4 linked regions of the Homo sapiens genome follow. The protein of the gene in region 4 purifies or fractionates together with the protein of the main gene of each other region. This does not show direct contact. Each region holds a gene or a part of one and is shown on either strand. Other genes may lie near its edges.

What was found.
Region 1: the proteins of STX17 (region 4) and ME1 purify together in Homo sapiens (affinity purification with mass spectrometry; one large-scale study listed by BioGRID and IntAct). This does not show direct contact.
Region 2: the proteins of STX17 (region 4) and LGALSL purify together in Homo sapiens (affinity purification with mass spectrometry; one large-scale study listed by BioGRID and IntAct). This does not show direct contact.
Region 3: the proteins of STX17 (region 4) and CP purify together in Homo sapiens (affinity purification with mass spectrometry; one large-scale study listed by BioGRID and IntAct). This does not show direct contact.

What each region holds. Positions count from the first base shown.
Region 1 is NC_000006.12:83,213,493-83,218,168, reverse strand, and holds part of ME1 (NADP-dependent malic enzyme), read left to right. Parts: intron 1-1,572; coding exon 1,573-1,671; intron 1,672-4,676. UniProt on the Homo sapiens protein: Catalyzes the oxidative decarboxylation of (S)-malate in the presence of NADP(+) and divalent metal ions, and decarboxylation of oxaloacetate.
Region 2 is NC_000002.12:64,459,405-64,462,940, forward strand, and holds the end of LGALSL (galectin-related protein), read left to right. Parts: 3' UTR 1-1,977; downstream 1,978-3,536. UniProt on the Homo sapiens protein: Does not bind lactose, and may not bind carbohydrates.
Region 3 is NC_000003.12:149,210,771-149,215,446, reverse strand, and holds part of CP (ceruloplasmin precursor), read left to right. Parts: intron 1-2,748; coding exon 2,749-2,996; intron 2,997-4,676. UniProt on the Homo sapiens protein: Multifunctional blue, copper-binding (6-7 atoms per molecule) glycoprotein. It has ferroxidase activity oxidizing Fe(2+) to Fe(3+) without releasing radical oxygen species. It is involved in iron transport across the cell membrane.
Region 4 is NC_000009.12:99,943,483-99,948,925, reverse strand, and holds part of STX17 (syntaxin-17), read right to left. Parts: intron 1-5,443. UniProt on the Homo sapiens protein: SNAREs, soluble N-ethylmaleimide-sensitive factor-attachment protein receptors, are essential proteins for fusion of cellular membranes.

The sequences.
Region 1 (4,676 bases), on a different chromosome or scaffold from region 4:
CCTGATAGTGTGGAATAGTTAACGTATCTTTGTCCTGAAGTTTGGGACCCTGATGACCAATTCTAGGGCAAACATCCTGTTACAAAGGCAAGAAATTAATGAGTTAAATGATGAGTTTATTATAAAATTATGGTCAACACCCTACAATTATATGTTATAATATTTTGTATAATATGTAGAGCAATACTAATCAAACAAATAGTTATACTAGTAACTTTACCTCCTTCTCCTTTCCATCTTACCTCTGCCTAAATGTCCCTGGTCAGAAGTCCTTAGTCACCGACGGGATTTAACTCCAAACTCCTTTTTTGACATTGATAATGCTCCAGTCCTTATTTCTGTACCCAGACCCTCTGCTCCCCCAGGTCAGGACACTTGGGCCTGCTGAGTCCAGCTCACACACAACTCTGCCTTTGGTCTGACTCTGTTTTTTGTCTGAAATGCCTACCTACTTTCTGTTTGTCTAACTCCAGGCTTTCCTGTAGGTTTGCCTTTCAAGCCACTGTGCACTATAAGGCCTTCCAGAACTGCTCTTCCTCTGGATTTCTTAGCACCCACATTTCACCATTAGCCTAAGCCGTCTTCTCTTTCAGCGTTCTCTTTTTCTTCCCGTACTCTGTTACCTTACTAAATTATACATCTCTCAAGGACAATAACACTTTTCTTAAGCTTCTCCGTAGTGTTATGCTTGTTCAGTGCATATATGTTTGCTGATGGCAAAGAATAATATTTTGGAAATAATTTCATGATTTAAAAATCTAAAAGATATTAAGATATACTGAAAAATAAGTATTTGATTATTTAAAATGTTACAAAAGAGGAAGGTTTCCTACTCCCTCTCTGCATCCACATTTTCATGGAACAAAGGCCTAGGTATAAGCTGATTTAGATTTGCCCCCATCTAGAAATTTAATCAAAGTCTTAGAGCTGGAGAGAACATCAGGGTTACTGAGTCTCCCTCTCTGCCTTAGGGTTCAATACAAAATTTAACACTGTTTGATTTGGAACTAGGGAATGGTTTGGGGACAGTAAATGTTGAGGCTAATTAGGTGATTTAGATAATCCAGAGTCTGTGTAAAATTAAAATCCTATTTGTAGTGAGACTCTGAACTAGCTTTCTCAGCCTTTTGCTCTACCTCCTGCACAAGAATATGACTCAGAGCTGGGAGTAATGGCATGCTTAGCCTTGGATAGCTGTCCTCCTCTGCTTTCAGGATCCATTTTCATTACTCTATCATCTTCCTCTTTCTTTCTTTTCTTTTCCCTTGTTCCCCTAATGTATCAATTGGAAAGTATCTAGCATTTCATGGTACAATAGAAAAGGAAGTGGACTAAAAGGAAACCTAGATTCTATTCCCATCTTTTTCACCAATTATGTGATCTCAACCACCACCACACCACTCTGGGCTTATTTCTTTGTTGATAGAAGTGGGGATGAAATTAGGTAATCATATTAATGTCACTGGTTTTTGTATAGACCATTATATGTAACCGTTCACTTAGTTATTGGCGTACCCACCACATTGTATCGTGTGAAGTATAAACACTTTTTTTCTTTCTTTTTTTCATAAGGTTATAGCTCAGCAAGTGTCAGATAAACACTTGGAAGAGGGTCGGCTTTATCCTCCTTTGAATACCATTAGAGATGTTTCTCTGAAAATTGCAGAAAAGGTAAAACCACTCTTGTTCAAGCTTCATTATTTTTCCTTCCTTTTCTTGCTAAATATGCATTTTTAAATATTAAAAATCTGCTTCCTTGAAATGTATATCTGTATCAACTTACTATGTCAGAAGTCAGAGAAATGAGGCACACTGACACTGTAGAGCTTAGGAGCTACATTTGCTTCTCAGAGAAGAATGGAAGTATTGGGCCGAATAATTAATTTCCCTCTCTATCGTTCTTTTTTTCTCCTAAAATTTAAATAATTCATTAGGGCTTCCTGTCAGCCAGATTTCTCCCATTTCACCTTTTTAAAGTTGTTCTTTTCTATATCACATTAGTGATAATTAACCAAAATATTACAGATATGTTAGAGTAACATTTAGACCTTGAACCACCTTCCATATCCATGTCACTATGATGTGTGGCATCATAAATGACAGATCACAACTGATAATACTGGGCGGAAGGCAAAATAAAGAGGTCAAAGAACTTGAAAGCTGTTTGGGTGGCAGATGAGCTACTGAAGGAGTTAGCCAAGAAGAACCCAAAGGCAGAGAAATTTTCTGTAACTAAACTGGAAGATAAGTGGACTTTTTTTGCAGTGTAATTGTATTAGTTTTCTTGGGCTGGGATAACTACATACCACGGTTATGTAGTAACTGTTTTTAAATATTCAAGCCACAGACTGTGTGGCTTAAACAACAGAAAACTATTTTCCCATAATTCTGGGAGCTAGAAGTCTAAGATAAAGATGTTTGCAGGTTTGGTTTCCTCTGAGGCCTCTCTCCTTGGCTGGCAGATGGCTGCCCTCTTTCTGTGTCCCCATATGGCCTTTTCTCTGTGTGTGTACACGCTTGTGTGTCCAAATTTCCTCTTCTCTTAAGGACACCTATCAAATTGGATTATAGACCATTCTAACCGTCTCATTTTAACTTAATTATCTCCTTAAAGGCCTATTTCTAAATACACTCACATTCTGAGGTACTAGTGGTTAGGGCTTCAACACTGAATTTGGGGTGGGAGGAACACAGTTTAGCCATGACAGTAGTTATATGTTTAAATTGGGGTTTCTCTACTTCAGCGTTGTGGACATTTTGGGTCAATAACCATCATGCGGCTGTCCCAGGCATTGTACAATCTTCAGCAGCATTCCTGGCCTCTGCCCACTAGATGTCAGTAGCATCTGCTCAGTTGTATCAACCAAAGCTGTTTCCAGACATTGTCAAGTATCCCCTTGGGGGCCAAATTGCTCCAGATTGAAAATCACTAGCTTAAGCTATTAGCAAGTTATCTAAACAACACCATTTAAGAGTCACATATCATTATTTATCTCGTTGACTGAAGGCAGTCTCTTAAAAAAAGAAGTAATTCTCTAAAAACCTTTACATAATAATCTGCTTGGTTATCTATGAAAAAGTATGTTCATATATTCTACTAATATGTATCTGCTAGTTTTTAAGTAGTTTAAACTATTAATATACTGAATAGCATATTATCATTTTAAGTTCATTTTGGAGATTTAAATGAAAAAGAGTTAGCTTATGATTAGAGGGGAAAAAAAGCAGGGGACAGCAGGGGAGTGCCAAAAGATTCAGATATCACACCTAGAATAATGGAAGAATACAGAGTGCATACACAGAAATTGAGAAACTAGAACAAAGAACCAACTTCAGAGAGGGAGATCATGTAAGTGGACTGCAAGTTTGAGGTATCAATGGCACATTCAAATGTACCATTTTATCAAGTAGATAGAAATGACTGAAACTTAAAGAGAGGCTAGATAAAAGACCTGGGCATCTTCTGCATGTGGTAACTGGTGAATATCTAGGAGTGGGTGAGGTTGCCAAGAAAGCAAGTATAGAAAGGAAATAAAAATGAGAATAGAATATAGTTTATTATTCTGTCTAGAAGACAGAAGAAAGATGCCAGTTAAGAAGAGAAGTGGTCAGGATTTTAAGAGACTCCAAACTGAGCAGCATGTCAATAATTAGGAAAGAGACAATTTCAGAATGGGAGTGGAAATTGTGACCAACACAGCCAAATCCTGGAGAGAAAAACAGATGCAGACTTTTATTTGGTACTTAACAAGTTATCAGAGACTTTTACAAAAGAAATTTCAAGATGTACAGGAGGTTCAGAAGGCAGAGAATTAGGAAAGCAATAAAATATAAGCCACTCTGTCAGAGAGTTTGGCATTGACAGGACAGAGAGAGTGAAGATTTCATTGGGAGAAGGGATTATTTCTATGGTATAACTGGGAGCAGAAAGAGGAGATGAATTTCCACATAGTCTATGTCAGTAATGAAACAATGTGTTTTATTATAAAATTAACATAGCCATCTTAAGTAGGCATGAGGGATCTTTTTGGGGTGATGGAAATATTCTAAAACTGAATGTGGTAATATTGTTGCACAGCTCAGTAAATTTACAAAAATAATTTAGTTGTACACTTAAAATGCTTGAATTTTGTGTGAATTATATCTCAATAAATCTGTTTAAAAAGTAATACTACCATATTATGGGCACTTTGGAAAACAAATAGAGAAAAGGAAAATAACCAATATCCTATTTTTCTAATATAAGTATTATTTTTTTTCCTGTGTTTGTTTTGAGTCTTTCGTTTGTTTATTTTCTAACATTATTATAATTATGAAATATACATATTGTTTCCTGCTTTTTCATAGACATTTCATAATACAGCACAGTATTCATAACCTTAATTGTTCATAAATGCATAGTTTTACATTGAGATGAGATAATCATTCTGATATTCTTTGAAATCAGACTTATCAAAATAAGTCAGTCATATAAATATTGTTTTAAGAACTGATGTGAATTCGGCTGGGCACGGTGGCTCACACCTGTAATCCCAGCACTTCGGGAGGCCAAGGCAGGTGGATCACCTCAGGTCAGGAGTTTGAGACCAGACTGGCCAACATGGCGAAACCCCTTCTCTTCTAAAAAAGTACAGAAATTAGCCGGGTGTGGTGGCAGGAGCCTGTTAACCCTTGGG
Region 2 (3,536 bases), on a different chromosome or scaffold from region 4:
AGAATAATATGAAAATGACTGTGGAATGCAGTGTAAAGCAGAAGCAAACGGCCCTGAATAACTTACTTGGAAGTAATTTATATCAACTTAAGCTGTTAGCTCATTGTATAACTTTTCTTATGTGACCCTCACCAATATCCCTAAGTAATGCCTTTGGAAGCTTCAGAGTAGAAGATGCTTCCTACTGTGTTGGCTCTGAGGAGATAGTAGGATTAGATAGGATCCAGATTAGGAAATGATCCAGTTAGTTTATCTGAAAGGTTAACTCCCAGGACTCCAGGTCTTTGAATCCAGCCAGTAGAGTGAATGCTTCCAATTAAGCTGTAGGTGTTACCCTGCACTTACGGAACTGATCAAACAGGTGACTCCAACAGGAGGTTGCAGTACTGTAAACGTCACCGCAAGGCAAGGGATGCTTAAAGTCCTGGGTTCTGGACTTTAAAAGCTACATTGGCCCTGGAGGGAGGGACCCTTGGCATTGCTTTGATCAGGTAGTGAGGGAAGACAGGGTTCTGGGGTGGGGGTGTATTTATATATAATTTAGGTTTTGTTTGTACAGCATACTGTGTCTTGTAATGACACATCCTTGTCCTGCTTTCCTTTTTTGAGTTTTTTTTTTTTTTTTACACAACATGCAGAGGCACTGAAGTGACCATGTCATTTTCAAGTGTCAAGAATGTAGACAGTGTTTCAGTACCAAAGTCTAAAATAAACTAAAATTATGAATTTTTTATAGGTGATACATTTGGATTCTTCTCAACTTTGAAACTGTTTAGCACAGTTCCATTGTATTATATAAGAAGACACTGTATCCAACAAGACTGGCTGTACATTGAAAAGCTTTATGTACCAGCCAACTTATTTAACCATATTCAGCCTGTTCCGTGGGGGCTGTTCTGTGGTTCCAGGTATTTTCAAGCCTGTGATTAACTTCTCATGGCTTGTCACTTAAAAGTCCCTAAATTTGAGAGACTTAAAGGGCACCTTGAAATACATTTGTGGAGTTTTGATCCAACTTATGGTGGAAGAGCCCCATAGGAAGACTGTTTTGAGTGGCCAACCATTCCCACCCACTGCATAATTCAGCAGAAACTAGAGGAGCAGGGCGTGTACTGATTGGAATTGACACGCTTATTCTGTCTACCTATCAGCTAACTCATTAGCAGCCAAGCCCTTAGGCAGCTTAGTGTGAAAATACAATGTTAACTGTTTGTTTCTCTGTGAGGTTAGTGGGAACCGCTTGGATAAGCCTATTGGGATTAATCTAAATGATGTGATGATTTGATTCAGGTATAGCCCAAATTAGTAAGGGGCTTTAGCTGTAAACTGAAAACAATATTCACACCCTCTCCTGGGCCTGTAAGGTCTAAGGTGAGAATTTCAGGATGGAAAATGCAATGTAAAGCTTCCACAGGAAAGTATTCGGGTATGTAAGGTGTTATTTCTGACCAGAGCCCTAGTTCTGCAATAACCAAAACCAAGGAGTATAAATAACAATCAGGCTCTGGGGGAATAGAAAGCAGGCTTTAGACAATCTGTCCATTTCTACAGTAAAATTGGAGTGAGTGTGTATATCTACTTAAAACTTAATAGAAGTGACTTCTACTTTTTGGGCTATTCCAGAAGTATTTTAAAATTATTATTTAAAATTTTGAAGCCCCATTTCAAATCTTGCCGACCTTAGTTCAAAGCCCCCTGAGAGATCACTTTTAGAATTGAGGATTTGTTAAAATGGCAAGTCATTTCATTTGTGTTAAAAAGAAAATACCCAAAAGGAAGGAGGGAGCCCTGTTTGCCTTGAGATAAACGGCCTTGGCATTTTCTGGCATTAATGTAGAAATAATGTTCCTATGATGACATATTTTCAAAGAAACACTTTCTTATTTACTGTGTGGTGTAAAATGTTGCTAAATGTGTTGTTACATTATGTCACTGCTGAAAGTAATTTGCACTATAATAAAGGAATTTTCTACAAAACAGTTTCCAGTTTATAACATGCTACATTTGGCGCCAGGTATAGAGTACTTAGCATAGACCACGTGGCATAGCAGTGATTCCTCACTTTCACACTTATGCCTCAAGATAACTTTTTCCTGCATTCCCCACACTGATAAACAGAAGAAAAGTCTCTTGGGGCCCTCAGAGACCTAATAACTTACATTGTGAATGGTAAATGCAGTGGGTTCTTTTAAAATATAATTTGCATACAGCAAATTCACTCTTTTGGTATAAAGTTCTGAGTTTTAACATATACATATAGTCATGTAACTACCATCTTAATCAGAATGCGGGATCATTTCATCATCTCAAAAAATTCCTTTGTGCTACTCCTTTGCAGATAAATTCGTCCCCCGTTCCTAACCCTAATTAGGCGTCCACAGATCCATTCTCCCTCCCCATAGTTTTGCATTTTTCTGAATGTCATAAAAACAATCGTATAACATGTAATCTTTTAGAGCTGGCTTCTCAATTTGCATAATGCATTTGAGAGTCATTCATGTGTATATCAATAGTTTTTATTGCATTCCATTGCATAGATATACTACAGTTAATCCATTCAGATGTTGAAAGATGCAGTGGGTTTTTAATCAGCAAATATAATCTTAGCACAATGTAGATACAAAAACAAGATTGCATTTCTCTTGCCTTCTCTTTCCTGTGGTTTGAATGATTAGGGAAGAAATTTAATGTCTTGGCTATTCAGCCTACAGATAAAACTGTATGGCTTATAGAAGTTTGCCCAGCTTCAATCATTGCTGGGTGACAGATTTACTCACATGCTAGATCTAGGGCCCTATTTATACCTTAATTTTATTGATCCCATTTTTTTTTAGGGTGCAGCATTGGGAGGCTGGTTTGCTGGTTCCTCTGTCACAGCTTTTGCAGTTAAGTACTGGCAGATGAGGCCTGTTAAGGTAGGGACAACTTGCTGAGGCTGTTGGACAAAAGATAGGAGAGCTTCCCTTGCTCGCTAGCCTGGCTGGGAATGCCCCTTAGGGGATGTCACATTTTACTTACGTTATGACAGCATTTTGGATTAGATGGCCTAAAAAATATATCCATAATTGGAGCTTTGAGTGCCACGATTCCTTAAGGCCTTCATTCATTCAACAGGTATTTATTGAGCTGTGTCACTTGGAGTATAAAAGACAAAGGTCTCTGGTGGCTTTAAACTTCAGTGTGATTAACAGGCAGATAGCTCTCCCCTTCCCCGAGTCCCCAGGAGATTTCTGTTTCACCAGGTCTGGAGTAGGGCCCAGAGGTTTGTATTTTCAAAACCACCCTGGGCCAGGTGTGGTGGCTCATGCCTGTAATCCCTGTACTTTGGGAGGCCAAGGCCAGAGGATCATGTGAGACCAGGAATTTGAGACCAGCCTTAGCAACTTAGGGGGACCCCATCTCAATTAAAAAAAAAAGGTGTGGCAACATATGCCTACAGTCCCAGCTACTCAAGAGGCTGATCAGGGAAAATCGATGGAGCTAGGAAAGTTGAGGTGCAGTGGGCCATGATCATGCCACTGCACTCCAGCCTGCAA
Region 3 (4,676 bases), on a different chromosome or scaffold from region 4:
TATACCTTCAGATCAATAATTTTAAAAGCAATTTTAACCCCCCCAAAAAACTTTGCCTAGAAAAATTAGTTACAAAGCCTAGGCAATATAGGTCTTGGTCTTGGTCTTAGGTATTTGTTTATGGCAATGCTCTTCCTATTTTAGGAAATGATTAATACAGGAGCATTTCAATGCAATAAAATCATTTTGACAAAGCCTGCTATAGTTTATCAAAATAGGACATGATGTATGCCAAAGTGTATTTACATTCAGAAAATATAAAGAAACATTTTATTTAAATGAAGCCTTAAGAATTTGAGGGCTAACTTTTAACTTTGGCCTATGTAAGATGTGTACCAATAGGACATGGTAAAGCATGGAGTAAAGTCTCCAAATATTATCAAATCAATCTCTCAGAAATAAAAGTGTGTTCAGACTCTTAAGAAAATTTACCCTGGGGCTTAGACAAGTCTCTGTGAGATTGATTGGTCCAGGGTTCCGGTGGGACCAGAGTGGAATTGTACCTTTGTACTGTAGACTTTGCAGCTGCAGTTGTGTACCTAACTGAAATTGCACTCTTATTGACCTCCTCTCAGTCATATGGACTGAATGACTCTCTGCTTTTAAACTTAGTAGTCTTTGATGCAACAATTTTGCTGTTGTTAAGACATATATTTATTAAGACTCTTTCTGTGCATTCCTTGCTATGGGTTTAGGGACAGAGTTCACCCCAGTGTCTTGCCCTTTTCCCATGCCTACCTGTGTCCATGAAGTCTCTCCCAATCTTTTCCTATTTTGCTTTAACAAATTGGGAAATGGCAACAAACAATTAGAAAGTGAAAACAAATAGAAAAAATGAGGGTATACTCACAGTTTTGCTGCTCCACACAGGCTGCAAATAATGACACTTTATTTTTCTAACTTCTAGCTTAGCCCTCCCACCAGGACAGGGGATGGACAGGGAAACATCATCTCAGTCATTTTTTTAGTGAATAATTTTATCTTCTTTGGGAATTCGGGTTTATACAATTCAGGAAAATTGGTATTCCCAGTGTATTGGTATATGGTAGTGACTAGGAGGAAACGCTCATCATAGAAATTCCTTGATCAATCCAGAGAATGGTGACTCTTATTTTCAACACCTGCTCACTCTGCCCAAACTCAGCCACCAGGACCATTGCCAAGTGGCCATGGTACCTGGCCCCAGCACTCAGGCTTAATCTATATAGCCTCCACCGCAGAGGTCCTGCCACTTCCAGGTATGACCTGGAAACCGAGTTTTCTACCTTTCTGTCTCATGGTATCAGGAATCCCACTGCTTCTGGGATTGGGCAGCTCTCTTAATCTTCAACCTTAGAGCCTCTTCAACACAGGTTACCCAGGGCCCCAGAGCAGACTATCTCATCAAAACACACCAGTGTGTTGGTTAATAATGCAGATACCTGGGCCCTGCCCCAGACCCACAGAATCAGAATCAATGGAGTTGTGTCCCAGGAGTTTGCATTTCACTAAGTTCATCAGTAGATTCCTGTGCATATTCAGACTTAAGAAACATCAGGCCTTAGACTTTTGAAAAACCACATCTTTAAATTCTGTAGCAGTGAAAGTCCAGAGCTCTCACACAAGCTCTGCTCTTGTCTTAAAGAAGGGAAAGAAAAATATATCTCACTTTTACCAGTGAGCTTACAACTGAGGAAACAAGACAAAACTTATTCCTCAGTCAGATTACTCGGCCCCACAAATGTTGAGTAGAAATTGGTAAAGTATCAAAGATCAATAAGATGAAAGAAGGCAACACACACACACACACACACACACACACACACACACACACACCCATGATGATGAGCAGTTTTTATTCAAATGGAAGAGCCTTGGTTGTGGAGGGGCTTGCCAAAGGCCAGAATCTAAGTGGGTCCTGCCAAATGGCAACATGATGTTGCCCATGAATAGATCCCACTGGGCTATATAAGCCTTCAGTTAAGGTTGATAACACAAGAAATTAATTCAAACCAAATTTACTTTCTTTCCATCTTTTCTTTTCCAGATTGCTATTTACCTCACTGATATTTTAAAGAAAGTTTTAAGCAACTATTAATGGACATTCACTAGAATACAAACATTCAATGTTAAGTATCTGTACTAGTGAGGGATTAAAAAACACAGGGATTATTTAAATTCAAAAGTAATTTAAAAACCACACACATTGCATGCATCAACAACTCTAGCTTTGATTTAGTGCTGTTAAAAGAAATATAAAAGAATTAATTTAGCTTTATTAATCTTACTTTAAGGAAAAAAATATATAAATATACACACACATACTTTGAAGTCTCAAATATCCAGATTGATTAATTATAAACTCAAATTTTTCCAGTAGCTAAGAGAGGTAGAAGTGAAAAAATGTCTTAATTAACTGCTTTATTTTAATATTTCAACTTAATTTTGTATTCTATTCCATTACATAATATGCCTGTGTCTTAATATAAAAATCATGGAGAAAATACTTCAGTAAGATGCACTACATTTCTATGATGCCTTCGCAGATGGTTCTCTGACATATACCTGATATGGAAAGCCTCACATCATTAAAATAACAGGGCTAACTACCAGCCCTCCACTTCAATTTTGGAGGCATCCCTACAACAGGCAAACATTCAATGTGATGTGCTCATTAATTTCTCTAATTATAATGTTATTAAATTATAATGATAATGTCATCCCTAGAAATGATGGCTTCTGATAGAGTTGTCTTGTTTTTCTTTGCAGGGAACATTCCAATATCTATCTTCAAAATGGCCCAGATAGAATTGGGAGACTATATAAGAAGGCCCTTTATCTTCAGTACACAGATGAAACCTTTAGGACAACTATAGAAAAACCGGTCTGGCTTGGGTTTTTAGGCCCTATTATCAAAGCTGAAACTGGAGATAAAGTTTATGTACACTTAAAAAACCTTGCCTCTAGGCCCTACACCTTTCATTCACATGGAATAACTTACTATAAGGAACATGAGGGTAAGTTCAGCTCATGTAGCTGGAATTTCCTCTTACTTTTCAGTAGAAGTGCCTTTTAGCTTCTAAAATTGTGGACTTCTCTCCTGGATAAGACATATAACTGCCATTCAGCTCTTAACTATTTTTTTTTTATTTTTTTTTAATTTTTTTTGACTTCTGTCACCCAGGCTGGAGTGCAGTGGCACGACCTCGGATCACTGCAAGCACCGCATCCGGGGTTCAAGCCATTCTCCTGCCTCAGCCTCCCGAGTAGCTGGGACTACAGGCGCCCACTACCATGCCTGGCAAACTTTTTTATTTTTATTTTTTTTTTGCATTTTTAGTAGAGACGGGGTTTCACCGTGTTAGCCAGGATGGTCTTGATCTCCTGACCTCCTGATCTGCCCGCCTCAGCCTCCCAAAGTGCTGGGATTACAGGCGTGAGTCACTGCACCCGGCCAACTATTTTATTAATAGGTACTTTGTTTCCATATAATAATGGCATGTTTCTCTTGGTTGTGCTCTTTCGTGGAAAGTGTGAATGTGAGAGAATTTCTAGGTGGACTCAGTGAGAGTCAGAGAGAGCTGGAGCTTCTTTCCCAGAGCCCAGTCCTTTCTGGCCAAATAGAATAAGAGAAATGGACAAAGTGCATCAGAGCCTAGAAGAGGCAAAATCCAGAGGGAAGAGAAAGAAGGACTCAAGATGTGGATTGCCTTATCTTTGAAGTTCCTACATGTAAACATACTGTGCTGTTGTTACCTCCCATCCTAACTTTATATAAACTCTGCCCCAGCTAAGGTGGCATAAGTAGTCTCATGTCAGTCAAATGGTACATATGCCTGGATGACTGTAGTCACATATGAGACACAATTAACTGAAAAAGTCATTTGAATGTAGGACTTGGAAGCCTTGAAAATAGTACCTGAAAAACAAAGATAAGGTTTGGTGCCTGTGATCTCATTCTTAGTCCTTAACAATGATGGTAAAAAAGGTGGTATTTTGTAGTGATGAAAAGCAAGGGCTTTGAAATTAATAGACAAAGGTCTGAGCCCCAGCCTTGCCTTTCACTGTTTGAGTGACCTTGGACAAATTACTTAAGTTCTTTCAGCTTCAGTTTCCTCATCTATAAAATAGAGATAATAAGAATACATAGTAATACCTCAATAACTATCAGCTGCTATCATAAGCAAAAATGCTGAAGTCATGCTACAGTTCATTGAAATTATAATGATCGAATAGGGAAATTAATTTAAAATTAGATTTGATTCATTATTAGTTGTCTTATTAAAAGAGATATTGGTTTAGAAAGTGAATGTGTTGACTTTTTTTGTTTTTGTTGTTGTTTAGGGATAAATTACATTCATAGCATAAAAGGCTGACTGCCATCCTATTTCTTTTTAATGATTTCATGGCTTACTAGGGAATTACCATTCATTTTAAAGGTATGGTAATGGAACTGTGGTTTTGTTAGAAGAAAAAAAGGGTTCCTATCTTTTAGAGATACATACTCAAGTATTTATGAATGGAATATGATGTCTGAGACGTGCTTTAAAATAATTTGATGATACTGGGGATAAGAGTGTGTGGGGGTACAGATGAAACAAGGTTGGCCTTGAGTCGATCATTGTTAAAGCTGGTTTGATGGGTACACAGAGGTTCAGCATTTTCTTCTCTCAACCTTTGTGTGTGTTTGGAAATTT
Region 4 (5,443 bases):
GGAGAAGCATTAAAAATTTTCTACAGCCAAACTTAATGAGCATTTGTTTGTGACACCTTCCTCACTTATGTAATTTGTACATATGTCTGTCCCCAGTCAAATTACAGTATCCAGCTAAGAACTCTATTACTATGAGTAATGTGGAAAATTTTGAGGGAGAGAAAGAAAAAACCCACTGAAGTATAAAATCTGATACTATAATAACAGCAACAATGATAACAAAAACATAAATAGTGGCTAAATTTTAATCAACACTTAAAGTTATCGATTGTGCTAACAGCTTTACGTCTTTTATCTTCCCCTCACAATATATCTTTGAAATGGATATTACTATTATTCTCATTTTATAGAAGAGAAAATTAAAGCAAGAAGTTCAAAAAGTAGCCCAGGATTACACTGCTAGTAAATAGTATAGGCAAGAATCAAATCCAGACCACAGATCTTGTGTTCTAACTACTTTATTACATAGCAAACACCATCCAACACAAACATAATGCAAATCACACACACAAGCCACATATGTAATTTAAAAATTTTTTAAATTACATTAAAAAAGTAAAAACAAGGGAAATTAATTTTAATAATATTTTATTTAACCTAATATAGCTAAAATACTATTTTAATATGCAATTATAAAACTTAAAATCTTTTACATTGTTTTATTTGTAGTAAGTCTTAGAAATCTGGTATATATTTTACATTCACAGCACATCTCAGTTCAAACTGGCTACATTTTAAGTGCTCAACAGTCACATGTAGTTAGGAGCTACTACATTGGATAGGGCAACTAGGGAATCTCTCTAAAATCAAACAGAGGGAACAGGATGGTAAAACCATATATGAAGAACATAAAGTCAGGTGTTTCTGCTTCTGAAAACAGCAGGCTAGGTGATTCAGACTAACCTTCCCACTAATGGCTACTTCAAAAGTTGAACAAAAATCAAATCACAAAACAAACCAATAGGAAAAAAAAAAAAAACTTGAAAAGTACCATAAAGCAAACAAGATAGTAAGTAACTATAGGACAAGAATTGGGCAAAGATGGAAATCTAGAGAGGTGAGTCCTGAACTCAGGACCACATTTGCTTTGGGAGTATTTGCATACCAGAATATAAACTCACAAAGCTTGGATTAAAATTTCAATGCCAAGACCTGCTAAGTATAAGGACTCTGGTACTTTTGGCTGGGATCGTCAGAGCTCCACCCTAGGAACACAGGTAATCCTAAAATAAAGCAGCCCTTGCATGAACTACAGACTGGCCTCCAGTCTCGAGTAGCTCACAGAAAACCTTAAGCTCTAAAATTGGATAAAGATAATCTTGGAAAGTTAGTGCCCCCAGCGGCTTAGAAGAGCAAATGAAAATATCTGGAGGAAGATAACATCATCCCTAGCTTCAAATAATTTCTATAAATAATGTTTCAAATACAATGTCCACCAATCAAAGATTACCAAGCACATGAGGACATATGCAGCATGAGGAAGAAACAGCAAAAACAACAGGCAACAGAAACATCCAAAAGGACATGTAATGAGGGAATGAGCAAATGTAGTCTACAAAACTATAGTTATTTTGTTCAAAGGCATAAAAATAAAGCTTGAAAATTTAGCAGACAATTGGAAACTATAAAAAGCAACATATAGGTTTTTTAATGAATATTCTATAATTTTAAAATAATGTCCACAAGAATTTAATAATTGAGTTTAGCTTCATATTAGGCCCAGTTCAAGAAAGATATAAATTGGAAAACAGATCTGAAGAAACTATGTAAAAAAGAAACAAGGAAAGTAAAAAATATAGAAGAAAAGTTAAGAAATACAGAAGATATAGTTAGAAAAGGGTACAATATACATTTACTTAGAATTCCAGAAGAAGACGGAAAATGAATTTGAATAGATAATGACTGAGAATTTTCAAAACATTGAAGAAAAACATCCATCCACAATTCAAGGTCAACAAATCCTGAGAAGAATAAATAAAAGGAAAAATACACCTAGCCAGAAGAGAGAAAAAGAAGGAGAAAAGATGTCTAAAAGCAGCTAGAGACAAGAGTTTCTTGCAAAGAAACAGTAAGATTATAATACGACTTCTCAACAGCAATAACGAAAGCCTAAAGACAATGGAACAAAATATTCAAAGTATAGAAAGCAAATTACTATCAACCTAAAGTTCTATATGCTGCAAAAATATCTTTCAAGACCACAGGTAAAATAAAAATATTTTTAGACAAACAAAAGCTGAGAGAATTTGCCTTCAGTCAATAACACACAGTAAGAGAAATATTAAATGGTGATCTTCAAAAATAACAATTAATCCCAGATAAAAAGTTGGAAATGCAAAAAGAAATGAACAGAAATGAAAATATGCTAAAAAGTGGGTAAATCTAGATGACCAGTAACTCTACTAAAACAATAATACTAATGTCTGTGGTGTTTAGAAATATTTATATAAAAGTAGCATTTAAGTTGCAGGGCATACATGGAACTAAAATAGTCTAAGGAACTGATATTATCTGTACTTCTAAGTTAAAGATGTACGTTGTAATTTCTAGTAAAAGTATATACATTTATTCCTTGGTATCCATGGAGGATTGGTTCCAGGACTCCCTGCAAATACCCAAAATCCATAGATGTTCAAAGCCTTACATAAAATGGTGTAGTATTTGTGTAAAACCTATGAATATCCTCCTGTATACTTTATCGCTAGATTACTTATAATACCTAATATAATATAAATACTATATAAATTGTTATACTGTACTTTTATAGAGAACAGTGACAAGCAAAAGAGTCAGTACAGATGCAACTATCCATTCTTTTTGTTTTTGTTTTTGTTTTTGTTTTTGAGATGGAGTCTTGCTCTATCGCCCAGGCTGGAGTGCAGTGGCACGATTTTGGCTCACTGCAACCTCCGCCTCCCAGGTTTAAGCGATTCGCCTGCCTCAGCCTCCCGAGTAGCTGGGATTACAGGCGCCAGCCACCACGCCCATCTAATTTTTTTGTATTTTAGTAGAGATGGGGTTTCACTATGTTAGCCAGGTTGGTCTCGAACTCCTGACCTCAGGTGATCCACCCACCTCAGCCTCCCAAAGTGCTGGGATTACAGGCGTAAGCCACCGCGCCCGGCCGCAACTGTCCATTTAAAAAAAAAAAATTTTTGTTCCACAGTTGATGAAATCCTTGGAGAAGGCTCAAATGTAGTTCCTAAACTAGAAAGGAAAAAATTAGATAAATTAAAAAAAACAAGATCAATACAAAAGAAAGTAAATATGGAGATTTAAAAAATATGTTTAAGAAATAGCACACAATAAGGTGAAAGATTTAAACCTAAATATATCGATAATTACATTAAATAAAAATGAAATAAATATTCCAGTTACAGGATAAAGATTTATAGACTGAATTTTAAAAAACTTAAGCGATTGTATCTAAAACATAAAGAAAAGAATGGTTCAATGTAAGAAGATGAAAAAGATAAACCACTTTAACCCTAACACCTCCTCTCCAAAGAAAACCTGCTGCGGCAATATTAGAAAAAACAGACTTTAAAGCCAAAACATTGCTAAAAATAAAGAGAATCACTTTATAATATCTGTACCAGGAATATATAATAATACCTAAGTTAAGTACACCTAATAACATACCCACAATACATATAATGCAAAACCGGACAAGAACTATAAAGAAAAATTGAAACAAATCCACAATCATAAGGGAAAGCTTTAACACCTTTAAGTAATTAACAGAACAAATGGACAAAAGGATGTTAAGTTAATATAGAGGATTTGAACAATAAGTTTAACACAAACTAGATATAAATTATATAGAACATTATACCAAACAAGGTGAGAATACACATGTCAAAAACACACAAATACACATGGAGAACAATTATAAAAATTGATTATACACTAAGTCTTAAAGGAAGTTTTGACAAATTTCAAAAATATTGACACTGATATCATACAGACCATATACTCTGATCATAATAAAATTAAACTTGAAATCATTAATAAAATATATCTATAAACATTTCATGACCAATAATGAAGAAAGACATATTTCTAAATAACCCACAAGTCAAAGAAATCACAATAGAAATAAAAAATGCTGGCTGGGCGCAGTGGCTCATGCCTGTAATCCTAACACTTTGGGAGGCTGAGGAGGGTGGATCATCTGAGGTCAGGAGTTTGAGACCAGCCTGACAAACATGGCGAAACCCCATCTCTACTAAAAATACAAAAAATTAGCCGGGTGTGGTGGTGGGCACCTGTAATCCCAGCTACTCGGGAGGCTGAGGCAGGAGAATCTTTTGAACCCAAGAGGCGGAGGTTGCAGTGAGCCAAGATTGCACCATTGCACTCCAGCCTGGGCAACAAGAGTGAAACTCCAACTTAAAAAAAAAAAAAAATGCTTTGACCTGAATGAAAAGAAAAATAATGCATATTTAAACCTACAGGCAGCCAAAGCAATACAAATTTATAGCTGTAACTGCATATATATATATTAGAAAAGAAAAAAGGTTGAAAATTAGTAGACTGAAAATCCATTGCAAGAAACTAGAAAATAGTAAAAACAATTGCAAAAAAAGTAGAAAGGAGAAAATAATAAAAATGTAAAAATAAATTTGATGAAACAGAAAAACAAACATAATACAATAGATTAACCAAGCCAAAACTAGATTTTTGGGAAGACTAATAAAATTGATAAACCTCATTGACAAATAATTTTAAAAAATAGAGAAGGCATAAATAACCAAAATCAGAAATGAAAAACGGCATTACTACTGATCTTGCAGAATTAAAAAATAAAATATTCTGAAAAAATGTATGCCAATAAATTAGAAAACTTAGATGAAATAAATTATTAGAAGACTATAACTTATCAAACTGACAAACAGAAACCAAAATAGTCATATAATTATTAAAGAAATTAAATGTATATTTTGAAGTCTCTCTTCCTCGCCACACAAAACCAAAACCAACTAAACAAACAAACAAAGAAAAAGCCCAGCCTGATAGTTTTACTGGCCAATTCTACCAAATATTTAAAGGAAATTACACAAATTCTTCAAAGGCACAGAAAAAGACCATCCTCTAACTCTTTATGATAGCACAACCTTGAAACGAAACTTAAGAAGATTAAGAATAAAGAAAAATTCAGACTAGTCTCACGCACTATAAACAAGATTTTAAAATCCTAAAGAAACACCAGCAATTTAAATCTAGCTTCATATAAAAGATAAAACAATAAAATATGGTCATGGATTGGAGGATTCAATATTGCAAAGATGTCACTTTTATTCAAATATAGAGATTCAGCTGGGTGCAGTGGCTCACGCCTGTAATCTCAGCACTTTGGGAGGCCAAGGTGGGCAGATCATTTGAGGTCAGGAGTTCGAGACCAGCCTGGCCAACATGGTGAAACCCCGTCTCTACTAAGAAA